Linked DNA regions of Homo sapiens: region 1 is linked to region 2. A link means that fine-mapping ties the variant in region 2 to the expression of a gene that starts in the linked region. Tissue or cell type: fibroblasts. Region 2 holds a variant in brackets; the other region holds the start of a gene. All regions are shown on one strand. Distances are from middle to middle.

Region 1 (2,619 bases), 430 kb after region 2:
TTTGATTAAGAGCCAACTGAGTAGTGGGCCTTGTGCTAGGGCTCCGAGGGCCCAAGGACCCCATGGAACCAGATTTAGTCGCTGACCTCTAGGAGCTCACAGGTGAGTGACTCACACACCGGAAGACGAGATCAATAATGTAGACATGAACGCTGGCTAGCCAGTCCCAGAGGAGGTGTCATCTGACCAAACCAAGGCAAGTCTGGGCAGTTACGCAGACACCCCGAGAAAGGTACGCCAACGCCCAGATAAAAAGTAAGAAAAAGTAGGAAAAACCCTCCCATCAGACCAGCAATTGGCTCGACGCTTGAGCCCGGATGTACGGCACGCGTCGCGACCTAACCCGGAAACACTGCCTCCCGAAAAAAAGGTAAACTCTAGACTGCGGAAAGTAAACTACCTTTCCCGTCGTGACTCAGTTAGAACCTCCCGGCATCCTCTCCACCTCTGGTTTCCCATCTATTTTTCCTAAAGCCTAGGCGAAATAAGACTTCATCTCCCAGAATGCCCTTGGTTAAGTTAACGGTGCGCATGCGCCAAGAGGCGGGCCCTCGTTGCCCCCACAACCCCGCCTCCGTTTTGCCGCCGCCATTTTTTCAGAGACTTTCATCCGGCAACCGACGGGGCTTTTTTTCTTAAAGGAGAAGCGACAGCTCAAAATACTACCCCCTTCTCCGCGCAAGATCTGGCGGCGCTGGGGACAGAAAGGCCAAAGACAGGAAAGTGGGGTAGGGTGGAGGCGGAAGAACGCCCAGGCTACTTCTGCGGCCTAAAGAAGAATAGAAAGAGCCCTTGTGGTATCAGTGGCTCCTCAGGGAGGCAGGTGCGCGCGCAGCCAGTCTAGGGTTTGCGTGAGGCGGGGAAAGAGGTGCGATTTCTTCTCACCCGCCTCCCTCGCGAGACCTGCCCCTCGCACTGCCCCTAGCGCGCGTTGAAGTCTGGAGGGGGGAAAAAGGTCACTTTGGGATTGTCGCGAGACACAGCCGTTTAACGGTGAGAACGGGTGCGCGGGGAAGGAAACCTCGCGCGCTCCCCTTTTAGCCGTTTCCTGATTGGCTGAAGGAAGGGGTGGGGGAGGGAACCTGGGGCGCCGCTGCGTGTAAGACTGCGAGGGGCGGGGTGAGGAGGCTTGTCCTCTTTTCCGATTGGCCCGCTGAGCGTCTGTGGCGCGCGCGCGCGCGCCGCCAGCGGTAGCGGACCTTGAGTGGCAGGGGGTGGGGGGGGCGCCCTCGGAGCCGGGCGGAGGGGAGGGGGGAAAGAGGAGCGCAGGGTGAGAGTGAGCCGCAGGCTTCGGGAGGCGAGGGGGCGGGGGGAGCAGCGCCGAGGCCGCCGCCTCCGCCTCCGCCGCCTAGGACTAGGGGGTGGGGGACGGACAAGCCCCGATGCCGGGGGAGACGGAAGAGCCGAGACCCCCGGAGCAGCAGGACCAGGAAGGGGGAGAGGCGGCCAAGGCGGCTCCGGAGGAGCCCCAACAACGGCCCCCTGAGGCGGTCGCGGCGGCGCCTGCAGGGACCACTAGCAGCCGCGTGCTGAGGGGAGGTCGGGACCGAGGCCGGGCCGCTGCGGCCGCCGCCGCCGCAGCTGTGTCCCGCCGGAGGAAGGCCGAGTATCCCCGCCGGCGGAGGAGCAGCCCCAGCGCCAGGCCTCCCGACGTCCCCGGGCAGCAGCCCCAGGCCGCGAAGTCCCCGTCTCCAGTTCAGGGCAAGAAGAGTCCGCGACTCCTGTGAGTAACAGTCTTTCAGGCGGTGGGAAAGACCCCCCTCTGTCCGTACGCAACCCTCTCGGCTCCCGTAGCGCCTACTCCACGTGACATCCTGCCTGGTCTGCCCCCTGCCGGCTCCGCACGCCAGATGTCACACCGTTTCCCCGGGAGCCTTCGTGCCTCCTCTCTGCGCCACCCTCATCTCGCTCCTGTACCTTCGCTTGTCGGGCCGTTTCCCCACTCCCCGAAATCATCTTTTGATACACCCCTGCACTCGCTAGTGATCCACCTCCTCCCTGACACCCGCAGGCTCATCCCTCTTTCTGGCATCCGCACCCCCTTTGTCACCCTATCCCTTTCCTTTAGGCGGCTCTCCAGTATTACATCACATGCCCTTTAGGGAATACACAGCCCGATCATAGCCTTCAAAAATGATTCCCCCCCGCCTTCGCGTTAGCTCAAGAGCCAGATGTACTAGTGTGTTTATGTAGCTTTTTTTTTTTTTCACTTTTCTAAATTTTTCGCAACCCTTCTCATTCTTTTGAGAAATTTGCCACTTATTATGGTCAGGTTAAAAGCCCACTGCTACGATTTTAAGTATGGAGTCTTTCATATAAAATTATATGAGCATTCTTTAATGTTTGTTTTTACTAAGTAGCATATGTTTTATCTTTGTGTTTCGTGTTTTTAAATGTAGGAACTTCATCCTTGAAATTAGAATCATCTGAGAGGAATTCCTTTATTACCTAGACGTAATAGAGGAAACATGAACAGGTGGCCAGGAGCATTGTCTTAAATTGTTCGTTAAAATAATACTCATGTTAAGAATACTGAAGCACACAAGTTTGTAAATTCTAGAAATTAATCACATTGACTATTCAATTCATGACTGAAAACATCATTAGTGACCTTTGATT
Region 2 (2,767 bases):
GATAATTATAATAAAAGACTATGTTACTAGTTTACGTAGTTAATATACAAATGTGTTGTTATTTTAGAGTGTATTCCTTCTACTCACAGAAAGCAAGTTAACTCTAAAACAGCCCCAGGCAGGTCCTTCAGGAGGTATTCCAGAAGAAGGCATCATCATCGTGGGAGATGATAGCTCCGTGTATGTTATTGCCCCTGAAGACCTTCTAGTAAGACAAAATGTGCTTTTGGTATGATACCTAAAAAATCATTGCCACATCCAATGTCATGAAGCTTTTCCTCTGTGTTTTGTTCTAAGAGTTTTGTCATTTTAGCCTTTATGTTTAGGTATTTTATCCATTTTTAGTTCATTTTTGTATGGGTATGCCACATGCAAGTTAAGGACCCAACTTTATTCTTTTGCGTGGGTTATCCAGTTTCCCTAGCATCGTTTGTTGAAAAGGCACTCAACTAACTTTTACTGAGATCCTTAATACAATGAGAGGAGATGTCATATAAAAAGTCTCAGGATTAAGAGAAAAGAGCTCTCATACTCATTTTCAGGCCCAGCCTTCTTTCTCATCTATTATTGGTTCCTTTTTACCAGTGGGGCAAATGAAGCCTGGGATGGTTAAATAATTCCAGGTACCCTGCCCCAGGTACCACAGCTAAGTAGCAACTGTGTCTTAATGTTGCTTTTGAGAAGGTGGTGTTGCATCATTTGCTTTCATAGTTTACTTGGGGAAGGGGATGTTCCTCAGGGAAGGCAAATCCAAATCTGCAGAAGACGGAATGACAGTTTGAAAAACTGTCTTCAGTATGACTCTTGTTTCATAATACAAACAACATAAAGTAAAACTCCTCTGTTGAAAGCTTGTGGGGCTGTACAGATGTTAGAGTGCAAGCGTTGGATGAATGTGAACTAAAAATGCTGGGTAAACATAGGTCTAGTAGGTATTAGCTCATTACAAGTATGTGTACACAACCAGTCCTTACTGAGAAAAGACATTTCTAGATGATATAGCCAGTGAATTTAGGAATTTATGTCTTAGTTTTCGGCCCCCAGACCATTTTTTTTTTTAACCTTGCACACAGAATTACCCCAGGCTTAATAATAACTGCCTTGGTTCTGAAGTTACTCAGTCTCTCCAGTTGCTCTGGGTACTTAAATTTCTTTTCCAGTTACAACAATCTACTGTAGGTAAGGGAATTGGGGTAGAAAGACACTCCAAGACAGTTCAGATTGCATGTTTATAAGGAACCTTGACATAGAGATT[A/G]TTGAGTTAACCAGACCATTGTTGCATTTCCCAGGAGCTCTGACAGGCCATGGGGAAATCCTCTCAGGCCAGGAGAACAGCGGTCCTGAGTTCCAGAAATTACAGATGGAGTAGTGATTCTACTCAATCTGTAACTGGTATTACAAGAGGATTGGTATGAGGACCCGGGGAGGTGCTGGTGGCAGCTAGTTCTGGAAGCCATTATGTGACTCAGGGATAGGTGGGATGAGAGGATAAAGAATAGAAACTAATGAAATGGCAGAATCAGAACATTTATTTTATTTTAAAGCTTTATTTATAATTCACAGATAATATTAGTATATATTTATGAAATTCAGGACATTTAAAATAAGCTAATAATGGAATTCTCTCCAGAAGGGCTGTTTCAATTTGCAGTGAATGAAAATGCTGGATACCCTATGATCTGACAGCACTTGGGAGCATTTGTTTTAAAATTTCATGGCCAATATTTACTTGGAAATTACCTCATTATTTTAGTTTGTATTTCTTTGATTATTAAAGAACTTCAGAATCATCTCATTTGTTTGCATCATTTATATTTCTTTTGTAAATTTTTTATGTGCTTTGTTGATTGATTTGTAACAGTAACTTGTACATTAGGAAAATCAGTCCTTTGTCTGTCATTTGTATTGCAAATATTTTCACAGATTTGCCTTTTGAGTTCATTTATGATGCTTTTAGGCTCCAAAAATGTTAAAATTTGATGTAGTTAGATTTATTCATTTTTTTCTTTTATAGCTTCTAGGTTTTCTATTGATATTAGAAAGGCCTTGTCTCCAAGATAATCAAATTATTTACCTTTTTTTTAGATTTGCTACAATTTCATTTTTTATGTCTCACATCTTGAATCAATCTTGAATTTATTTTGCACGCATGACAGTGCAAGTTTCCATCTCTCTGAGAGATTGCTGGGCAACATGTCTCCCTCTGGAATCCGAGCTCCAGGAGGGCGGGCACTTAGCTTGTGCTGCTTGCCAAAGTGATGCTGGTGCCTGGCACAGAGCCTGCCACCTGGTAGGCACTTAGTAAGCTCTTCTTCAATTAGTACATGATAACATTCTAGAAGATAGAGGGATGAGCTGAATCTAGCAGGAAGAAACCTTTATTTCTGGATTTTATCCTCTAAAAGAAATAGAAATAGAATAAAGCATGCCCAGAAAATGAAAACCAAGGTGGTGAAGGAAACAGAAACCAAATTAGAGGAGGCACTGGGGATGCTTACTTTGGAAAAAATTCAGTGAAGAAATCTCTTCTTTTGTTTAGTGTTAAGGAGATGGATGCCTTGGCTTTTAGAGTTTAAGAAAGAGCTCTGGAAGAAACTGTTCAAAGAGGGGATGGGTTGTCTTTGGAGTTGGTGAGTTCCCTTTCCCCGGGAGTGCTCAATTGTAGATACATGGTTTCTTGGGGACTGTTGTGGAAGATTCAAACATCAGGAGCCAAGCAAATGAGTGATATGGACTCAGGATAATTCAATAGGGAAGGGTGGGTCAT

The links. PIP is the estimated chance that this variant, and not a neighbour inherited with it, causes the effect.
Region 1: it holds the start of ZFP91, and the variant in region 2 is fine-mapped to the expression of ZFP91 in fibroblasts (GTEx, PIP 0.91).

The regions. Positions count from the first base shown.
Region 1 is chr11:58,577,900-58,580,518 of GRCh38, forward strand. It overlaps ZFP91 (ZFP91 zinc finger protein, atypical E3 ubiquitin ligase), which reads left to right and starts at 1,164. Exons shown (of 11, transcript NM_053023.5): 1 at 1,164-1,723. The coding sequence starts at 1,383. ZFP91-CNTF (ZFP91-CNTF readthrough (NMD candidate)) reads left to right here and starts at 1,215. Exons shown (of 13, transcript NR_024091.1): 1 at 1,215-1,723. It also overlaps a transcript of LPXN not described here. RefSeq lists enhancers at 18-537, 156-848, 568-797, 1,542-2,233 and a silencer at 1,218-1,637.
Region 2 is chr11:58,150,729-58,153,495 of GRCh38, forward strand. The region is part of intron 2 of OR9Q1 (olfactory receptor family 9 subfamily Q member 1); the gene reads left to right. Among named protein-coding and RNA genes, the nearest start is that of OR9I1, 27 kb to the left of the region's middle. The variant A/G (reference allele first, on the strand shown) is at 1,256.